Linked DNA regions of Homo sapiens: region 1 is linked to region 2. Evidence: fine-mapped expression QTL. A gene starts in region 2. The other region holds a variant in brackets. All regions are shown on one strand. Distances are between the middles of the regions.

Region 1 (5,390 bases), 35 kb after region 2:
TGGAAAGCATTATCCTTACATGGCCCCGGTTTCCAGTCACTCCAGTGAAGGTTTCCTTTAAACACTACCGCCATTCTCCCTGCTCAGTGTTTCTGTGGCCTTCTCAGATGTCCTTCATGCAGTCTAGGCTGTGCTTTGTATTCAAAAGAGAATCCCTTGATAGTATATGGACCCAGTAATGTCCTAGTTTCTTGAATTTGCTAAAAGCAGGGGCATTAGATTGTGAAAGCCCACTACAGCCATTTCTATTTTAACAGTGATACATCTTCCTTTTGGCAAGAGTACTATTGAGTGAATTCGTACAGTCTTGGGCCCTTCCATGTTTATTTAAAGATTGTATTTTCTGAGGGAGGAGGACAAAGGGCACAATTGGGACTTTACTCAAAACACCCACATATCATAGAGGGAATCTACATTTACTGTTTAATTTTAGTTTTCAAAATTTATTGCAAAGAGTCACCTGGATAAAGAGAAATCCCCCCACAGAACAATGTCTTTCTGCCTTCTCCAAAGCACACTCCCTTTTCTGAGGAGTGATGCTTTCACTTAAAATGGTGTATATTGATTAAAGTCAACATATTTCCTGTTTTTTAGGTGTCTGCTGGGTTCTTGGGAGCATTTTTTTTTTTTTTTTTTTTTTTTTTTTGAGACGGAGTCTGCTCTGTCGCCCAGGCTGGAGTGCAGTGGCGGGATCTCGGCTCACTGCAAGCTCCGCCTCCCGGGTTCACGCCATTCTCCTGCCTCAGCCTCCCAAGTAGCTGGGACTACAGGCGCCCGCCACTACGCCCGGCTAATTTTTTTTGTATTTTTAGTAGAGACGGGGTTTCACCGTTTTAGCCGGGATGGTCTCGATCTCCTGACCTCGTGATCCGCCCGCCTCGGCCTCCCAAAGTGCTGGGATTACAGGCGTGAGCCACAGCGCCCGGCCGCATTTTTTTTTTTAACATAAGCCTTTCTTTATTGATTCAGAACTAGAAAACATTTTAATATAGTGGTAACATTTAGTCACAATGGGGAGTGTGCTTTTGGCAATTCCCTGGTTAATGGCATGAATGTCTGTGTCTGTATGTGTGTATAGAAATCCATTAGACTCATTTTAAGGTGGTTTTTTAAAAAACACTAAAATATGTAAATATCCTGATGATTGAGACTACAGGTTGATATTTTATAATGTTGTTTTCTGTTCACATTCAGATACAGTGAACCCACATGTTGAAGCTTTCTAGTATAATAAAAATTTCAACTGTTCTGTTGAATCATCTGCCTGATTGGAGGCTACAGAAAAGATGTCATCTTAGGTAAGGACTGAAGGGTAAATGACTGTAAAACATGATTTAAAAAGACACTAAATGTAAGAAAGCCTTAGCCCAACTTTTACTTCAAAATTCCTATTGATTTGTTATATCAGGAAGAGTCTTAGAATAATTCCTTTGATTGTCCTCTAAATTTACTTCAAGTTAAATTCATGTTCTCTCGAATCTTCTCACCATTCTCAGGCTGTATGTAGACACCAAATGGGTGCAAATAATGAAACATATTCTGTAACTAGCTGCCTTGTATAGACCCAACTTAAAAGAAACAAAAAAAAAATGATGGATTTTTGGTAATGTGCTTTTATTTTAAAAGGATAAAGAAAATTCAGCCCCATCGTGGAACTTATCTGTAACATGAATTAATCTTCTTAACAAATAAAGTCAGTCCCCCTATTTTACTTGACCCTGCCCCAAAGGGAATATATAGCCTCCCAGATTACTACTGAACATTTTGAGTAGCAACAAACTTCAGATCCTTGCATATCTTAGTCTGTGTTGCAATAAAGTAAGCTTGTCCAACTCGCGGCCCATGGGATGCATGCAGCTCGGGACAGCTTTAAATGCGACCCAGCACAAATTCGTAAACTTTCTCAAAACATTATGAGTTTTGTTTTTTTTTTTGCAATTTTTTTTCGCTTATCAGCTACCATTAGTGTATTTTATGTGTGGCCCAGGGAAGCCAAAAGATTGGAAACCCCTGCGAATACCCAAGGCCAGGTAATTTCTAAAGAAAATGGGTTTATTTGGCTCACAGCTCTGTAGGCTGTACAAGCAGCACGGTGCTAGCATCTGCTTCTGGTAAGAGCTTCAGGAAGCTTCCAATCATGGCAGAAGGGGAAGGGGAGCCAGTGTGTTACATGGTGAGAGCAGAAGTGAGAGAGAGAGAAAGGAGGTGCCGGACTCTTTTCAATAACCAGATCTCACAGGAACTAAGAGTGAGAACTTAATCATGAGAAGGCCATTAAGCCATTCATGAGGGATCTGTCCCACTGGGCCAAACACCTCCTAATAGGCCCCACGTCCAACTTTGGGGATCCATTTTCAACATCAGATTTGGAGGGGACAAATACCCAAACTATATCATTGCAATGATTGTGACAAATGTCAAGTGGAGAGAGTCTGACTTCATTTTATTATAACTACTTTACATGAAAAGTCCTTTTATGAGGCCCAGAAATTTCTATGAAAAGTAAAATGTCCCCAGTGGCTCAAATGGCTGTATGGGGTTTTATGTTGAGGTATACCAGACCATGACATATTTCATATTTACTCTGATTTCATATTTACTGTAATTTCATATTTATTCTGATTGAAGATCTCATGACTTGACATAAGGATGATATTATATAGACTCAAATTCCAGAATTCTTATATGTTTCCAGAGAGAATGGGCAAAAAGCCTTCAGTTAGAGTCACATATTGCTTACTTTTTTTCTTTTTAATTCTAGGAGTGCTTGCTCTGAGTGAGGCTCATCTTCAAATCTGAATGACCACAAGGAGATTTGATTATACATGTGAACACCTCAGAAGGCACAGCCCACCCAGAAGGCAGACAGGTCAGGCTGCTTTTTCTTCATTGCTTGGATTCAATCCTCCGGGCGGCTCAGGCTCAAACATAACTTAAGCATGATTAAACTTTAGAAGAAGCTGCCAGGAAGACTGTGAAATCTTCATGCCCAAGGATCCCTAAAATTAGGAGCAACAACCACTTGGCTCAGACGGTTTATGGAGGCAAAGGTTTGGATGGGATTAGAGATTTCTAAATGTGAGTTCGTGTCCTCTGCCAGACCACCTTACTTCCACCATTCCTCAGCAAATCAAGAAAAACAGGAGAAAAGACATGCCTTTCC[A/G]TAAGTTAAATCTATTCTGTTTTAATTCTATATTATATCTGCTGTACAACTTCTTTTGTTTGTAACACCATATTGTTGCTAGTAACTGGAAATTAATTTTCACATGCCTCAGCTTAGAAAAATAAAAAGCAGCCCTGCATCAATCCCAATTTCCTTTTTAGTTTTAATGAGCCTTGAAATCCGAAATTTCGGAAACCATTGGTCTAGATAATCTTCATTCAACAAATATTCATTCAGCTGCCTGTTCTTATGTCATACAAAGGGAAAATAACTTTTTCCACAGGATTATGAAAATAATTAAATGAACTAATATTCATTGCGCATGGCACCATGTTAAGCGCTTTACATATGCAAATTATTTTATTTAATTCTTGCAAAAACCCTAAGACAAAGACAACCAACAAAAAGCATGGAGGGTGGGATTCCTGCCAGGTCACCTCTGGCATAGGCTGCCATAATTAACCTAGTTTTTACTCTGCTAAGAAAATGACTGGTGTTTGCAGGGAGGTGGCATGATAGCAGAAACACATTTTAAACTTTTTAATGTTTTGCTTTTTTCATGAAACCAAAGCTTGAGTGGTGGGATGGCTGGGCATAGTGATGCAAACAAACAAACGGTGGACGATAGAAACATCAGTGGAATTTGTTGATGTGTGAAACACCTCCAATCAGTCAGAATTCAGAGTTAATCAGAGACCACTTGTTCAGAGGCCTGATCTTTCTGGCTCAACAAGCCAATCACATTCCCCTCTGTTTCACATGATGTCTGTCTTCCGCTCCCTGATTTGTGAGAGCAATTCTGCATGTGCTGAAGAACTACAGGATATAAACAGGAATTAACAGCTAGACAACTAGCTATTGGCGATGGCTAATTATAGAATGGAGAAAAATAATACTTTGCTTTGAGCCACTTCAATCTGAATTTTGAATTCAAAATCGAGGGTAGGAATGTTATATGCCAAGGCCTCTTGGAGCTACCATCCTTAAAGCACTAAGCCCCAAACTAAGTGAGTTATCATTTTGATACTATTTTTCACAGGTAGAATGAGAACGTCTCCTGCACATTAAAATGACTTTTTGTTCTTTTTATGCAGAAACAAGACAGAGATCAGAAAGCCACTTTGGCTTAGGCACAATAAGGGAAGAAAATAACCTTTAAGTTACCAGAGTTAGTTCTCCCCCTATTAGAGGGGAGTGATTACCCTGAAGATATTCAATTAGCTCTTGCTATGGACTGAATTGTGATTTCCCCTGCCACCAAAAAAAAAAAAAAAAAAAAAAAATTCATATCGCTGAAGCCCTAATTCCTAATGTGATGCTATTTGGAGATGTGGTCTTTGGAGATCATTAGGTTTAGATAAGGTCATGACGGTGGGCCCCTCATGATGGAATTCGTTTCCTTATAGGAGGAGACAGACACTAGAGCTCACCGGCTCGCCCTCTCACTCCTACTCATCTGAGAAGGCAGCCAGCTAACCCTTCAGCCAGGAAGAGGGTCCTCATCAGAACCTGGCCGTGGTGGCATCCAGATCTTGAACCTCCGGACTCCAGACTGTGAGAAAATAAGTGTGTTGTTTAAACTACCCAGTCTACGGTGTTTTGTTACGGCGGCCGCATAACGAGCACTCCCTGTGCAGAATGAGCAGCAAATCTGTTCTCTCTCTTTCGAGTGCTCCTCTCCCACTGAATCGGCCCGTGCTGCAGGCCACACAGGACAGGAGCGATGATGCTCCTTGCTTGACCAAACTTTGGACTGTGAGCTGGTAACTCAATTGCAATGGAAAGGAGTTGTAACCAGCACTTTTTATCTGAGGTTTGAAAAAGGAAAAGAAGCTTGACCCCAAGATACCTGAGTTTTTGAGGAGTAGAGTCGGGAAAGGTCTGCATTCATGAGGCGCTGGATGCCTGTTCCACTTCTGACCCGGTGGATAGAGAGCTGCAGCTCCAGCCAGTCAAGCAAGGCGCATCATCTCTCCAATCTTATTTATGCTACCTTCATCTGCCTCAAGTTCCCTAGTGATTCTCCCACCTGCAACATACCCACCAATCTCACCCTTATGGCAGATCTCTCCCTAGACACAGGATCCTCCTGCCCTGACACAGAGCTCCTCTTCTTCCTGAGATTCTGTATAGGACTGAGTTACTTCCAGGCGCTGCCCACATCCCGTGGAATCCAGCAATTCCTCTGGGATCCTGGGGTCTTACCTTTCCCAAGGCCTGAAGTTAA
Region 2 (5,390 bases):
TTTTCCACAGTTGACTGCTGGTGAGAATTAAGTAACATAATATATTTGAAGCTCTTTGGCTGGGTATGGTGTCTCATGCCTATAATCCCAGCACTTTGGGAGGCCAAGGCAGGAGGATCGCTTGAGGCCAGGAGTTCAAGACCAGCCTAGGTAACATAGTGAGACCCCCATCTCTATTTAAAGATGATGATGATAGATAGATGATGATAGATAGATAGATAGATAGATAGATAGATAGATAGATAGATAGATAGATAGATGGATAGATAGATAGATGACAGAGATGATAGATAGATTTCAAGCTTTGTCACACAGCCTGACAATTCATTTTTCTTGGGTAAATACCCATTTCTCTTTGGGTAAATACTTAGGAAATGGGTAAATATTTACCCATTTCTCTTGGGTAAATATTTAGGAGTATTTACCCATTTCTCTTGGGAGTATTTACCCGAGAGAAATGAAGGCATATGCCACCCAAAAACCTGTACACAATTTTTTAGCAGTTTTATTTATTATTGCCAAGAACTGGAAATAACCCAAATGTTCATCAACTGTTGAATGACCAAGCAAAATGTGATGTAGCTATACTATGGAATACCTCTCAGCAATAAAAACGAACAAACAACCAATAGACACAACAACATCAATGAACTTCAAAAGCATCTTGCTCAGTGAAAGAAGCCAGGCTCAAAGGTTACATATTTTAGGATTCTACTTATATGGCATTCTGGAAAAGGTAAAACTAGAAGGACCAAAAACAGTTCAGTGTTGCCAGAGTCTAGGGGTGGAGGTAGGAGACTGACCACAAAGGGGTACAAGTAAACTTTTCGGAGTGATGAAAATATTCTGTATTTTGATTGGGTACTAGTTACATGATGGCACATATTCATCAAAACTCATAGAACTGTACACTTTAAAAGGGTGCATTTTACTCCACGTAAATTATACCTTAAAAACCTGACATTTTAAAAAATCACTGATGATATCATTATATATTGATTAAACATTTTAAAAACATCCTCATGAACAGTGTGCCTAGCACTCAGTGACATTAATGTTAGTTGTTGTTGTTGTTACCATTGACTAAGGTGACAAAAGTATAGAAAAACAAAAATAAATTAGAAATAGTTTCATTTATTATAGAACCAAGATTAGGATCTAGTCAATGTAAGGGTCCAAAACTTTCGTTGATTCTATAAATTCAATATTTTAATTTAATCAAGTAAAATGTCTTGTGTACAATGTTGCTAAACAGTAATAATCATTACAAATAGCAATTCTGTTAAACAGATGTAAGCTGAATAATTAGGGCTGTGTGTGATACCACCTCAGATGCCAGAGTGACAAAGCCTTTCAGGAGTTATCAGGCTGCTTTTCCACCTGTCAGATGTGCACATCTAGAAAATCAATTTTTATCAATGCACTCTGAGATGATAACGTTATAGGAGACTGATTTACGTTAACGAATCTTAGAAGGCACTGATGTATAAACCCGATGTACAATGTGTCACTCAACAGAATGATAACTGCCACTTGGGTCACCACAGTACTGTGCGCTGATGTGATCATCACATTTTTTCCTTGTGGGCAGGTTTAAAGGGGGAGCCGAGCATTAATCAGCTTCCTCGGTGGGCAGGGGGTCAGAATAAGGAAGAGAAGTTAGTGTTAGAGGACACACAACCCAGGTCATAGTAAAAGTTCCACAAATCATTCCTGTTCCCATAATTCACCAGATTCAATGTCTTTCTTTATTAAACAATGTGGTATAGAAACCAATATAATCTTGTTGGTAACTCTCTTTTATGTAGATTTCATGTTCCTCACTCTTTAGTCTTTCTGCAGATCTGGTACATTACCATTGAGAGAATCAGCTTTCATGATGACAGTCACTTCTGTTCCTTCCTTCCTGAGATTTTGCCTTTATTGAATTTGGTGTTCCCAAGTCTCCTCCAATGCACACTTAATAGATATCATCTGATGTTACTTCTACAGATAATCTCATCCTTTCATGGATTGCTTTTGCTAGTTTAACAATCAAAGAGTGTTTTGGTTGCCTATTGCCCCATAACAAACCACTCCCAAACTTGGTGGTGTAAAATACCACCAATCATTTTATTATTAACTCCCACAAGTTTGGGAAGTTGCCTGAGCTCACTTAGGCGGTATTCACTCAGAGTGTCTCACACACTTGCTGTCAGACAATGGTTGACACTCAAATATTCTGAATGCTTGATGCTCACGTGGCTGGCATGTGGGCTGGGACCACTCAAACAGCTGGAATTTGGAACTTCTAGGGACCCTAGGAATGCTTCTTTGTCTCTGTGTGGTCTCTTCAGCATAGCAACAGCAGCGTAGCTGAACATCTTACGGATGGCCCAGGGCTCCAAAGGCTCGTTTCCTAAGTGAGAGAGAGCCTGGCTGAAGCTGTATTACCATTCATTCTCCAGCCTCCGAAGTCTCAAAGCATCACTTCCACCATACTCTAACTGTCAAGACAAACACAAAGGCCCAGGTAGGTTCAAAAAGAGGGGGAGTAGGCTCTGCTTCTTGATGCAGATGTGGCCAGGTTCTGGAGGAGAATGTGGGACAGGAAATATTATTGCAGTTCTGGAAAACACAATCTGCCATGAAAGGCAATCTCAACTTTCAGTTATTAGAGGACTGAGGGTATTTTATTACATACTAGTCAGATGCCTATTTTCAGGAGCACTGAATACTAAATATACGGCCCCTCAGCCCTGTGAGGTAGAGTGAAAGTTACAGGAACGGCAAATGAATAAATGAAGACATCAAGATGATTTACAAATTCATAAATTTCCCACAAAATATAATATATATATAACATAATATATATATTGGGATCTCTGACTCTGATCTAAATAGACAAATGTTTTTCAAAATGATACTTTGATTTAGAAAGAAGAATACACTATCGATGTTCCTTTTAAACAAGTATTTGAGTAAAAGCGATGTTTCCAATGTGTGTCAGAAAGTGAATACTTGTATATTTCCGCACGGTTAGAGCTGAGCTTTCCGAGCAAATTTTACTGGGACCCGGTTGAAAGACAGGTCTTGGAAGTGAAATGATGACTGACTAGATGGTAAGAGATTTTCCTTCCAGGAGGTTTGTGTTTTCATTTCAAGTGGGGGATGAGACCCAAAGCCTTTGAGACATTCCAGAGGTTGTAAACTCAGAGACGGTTGTGTCTTCTTTCCTCATGGAGACATGTATTTATATTTCAAAGAGCAGCAACCCAGAATCCTCCTTTTTTTCTCAAGGAGAATTTGTTTACATTAGGTAGATTCAGTTTGCTTCTCATCCTCAGAAGGGGAAATTTTATACACGCTCCCAGGTTCATATTTTTGGGGCTTCCTCACGACAGTACCAACCCCATTACATGTAGAGTGGCCTCCAGCTCTGTTCACATCACTCCAAAGGGAAGCATTGGGAAAAAGGGCAGCTGAGGAGATTGTTACTGTGAGTAACTAACAATCTCTCAGTCCCACAAATCTCATGTCTATATAAATACAGAAATCAAAAATTTATCAATATGAAAACAGTACAAAATATACCCAAATATGTCTATTTAAGTATATTATTTTGAATTCTCTTTTTCTTGCTGATAAATTTAGTGTTGCACTGGTTTTGCTCACAGAGGAAATTAGAATTCACTGAAGTTTCTTTATGTGTACAATTAAGGGGCTTGTAATATATTCACAGAGTTTTGCAGCCATCACCAGAGTCAATTTCAGAACATTTATATTCCCCCCCAAAATAAACCCCATATCCATTACCAGTCACTCTTCATTTCTCCCCACCCAGCTCCCAGCCCCAGGCAACCACTAACCTACTTTCTGTCTCTCTAAATTCTTCTATTCTAGACATTACATGTAAATGGAATCATACAATATGTGATCTTTTGTGACTGGCTTCTTTCACTTAGCATAACGTTTTCAAGGTTTGTTCGTGTTGTAGCAGGTATCAGTACTTTATTCCTTTTTATTTCTAAGCAATATTCCATTGTACAGATGTACTGCTTCTGTGTATTCATGCATCAGTTGATGGACATTTGGGCTGTTTTCACCTTTTATTATTGTGAATAATGCTGTTGTGTTATTCATGCATGTACAAGCTTTTGTGTGGACATATGTGTTTATTTCTCTTGGGCATATACCTAGGAGTGGAATTGCTGGATCAAATGGTAAATCTATATTTAACATTTTCAGAAACTGCCAGACTGTCTTCTGAAGTGGCTATAATATTTACACTCCCATCAGCAGTGTGTAAGTATTTCAGCTTCTCTACATCCTCACCGACACTTACTATGTCTTTTTTATAGCATCATTGTATTTTTTAGTTTGAATTGTTCATATACTATCTTACTTTTATTTGTATGCATTTTGCAACTTTAGTACAAAGCACCTTCACATAAACTCTTTGTTTCAATTGGTGTGTGAGATAGATATTATTTTCTCTAAAATCAAAAGGGTTGAATGTATTGCCCCAAGTCATATAATTAATAAATGGCCTAGCCAGAATATTCTTCAGCCTAGGTCTTCTAATTCAAACCCTCAGATATTTTTCCTTTTCTACCCAAATAGTCTGATCAAGTGATCATTTCTTTGGTCTTAGAGATGTGAGAAGGGAGGAAAAAAGCAACCAGTAGTAATCATGACTATTCTCTGTCTTCACATTTTGTCATTTGAGAATCAGCTACACATTTTCACCATCTCCTTCCATTCTACCCAATATCAGAAGGAACTTGATGAGGAATTTGCCTGTTGAGTAGTCACGTTACATGGAATGATCACCTTTTCTTCCCATCTTCATTGCCCCAGTTAAAGGAAAGATCGCTTTCAGTTTCTGAATACCCATGGAAGGACATGGTTATATTATGTCATATCATTATATCTGACCCAGTTTCTAAGGATCCAGTTGCTGATATAAATCCGAGGTTGGATCTTGCTTCATACATTACCTGGCTTAAATCTTCACCCAGCTTTCCAGGGGTTTCAACTGTATTAAATTTCCCTCTTTCTCGTTCTGAGAAAATGTTCTCATGAAAAAACAACAACAACCACCTCCTAATCTCCTTCCACTATCTTTGGGAATTTTGGAGGCCTGGTCCAGCAGGGTGTCTTCTGATCTGATGTTCAGATCATCTCCAGGCTCTGCTGTTCCTAGTGACTCCATCTCTGGCACCTCCTTGCACCAGTTGACAACTGCTCCAATCCTACCTTCTGTTTCTGGAGCTGCTTCTTCCCTCTGCTAGGCTTCAAAGGACCTTCTCCCACTCATCTGAGAAGGTTTGCATATGGTCCCAAAGTCTGTGCTTCTTAGGGTTCCACATTCTCTATTTTGCTGCCACCAGGGAAGATTTAAGGCAAGG

The links.
Region 1: its variant is fine-mapped to the expression of LINC00635 in testis (GTEx, PIP above 0.99).

Annotation. Positions count from the first base shown.
Region 1 is chr3:107,839,584-107,844,973 of GRCh38, reverse strand. It overlaps LINC00635 (long intergenic non-protein coding RNA 635), which reads left to right. Exons shown (of 8, transcript NR_024276.1): 6 at 1,195-1,298; 7 at 2,762-2,869; 8 at 2,955-3,312. Among named protein-coding and RNA genes, the nearest start is that of LINC00635, 36 kb to the left of the region's middle. The variant A/G (reference allele first, on the strand shown) is at 3,164.
Region 2 is chr3:107,875,024-107,880,413 of GRCh38, reverse strand. It overlaps LINC00635 (long intergenic non-protein coding RNA 635), which reads left to right and starts at 2,346. Exons shown (of 8, transcript NR_024276.1): 1 at 2,346-2,512; 2 at 4,228-4,284.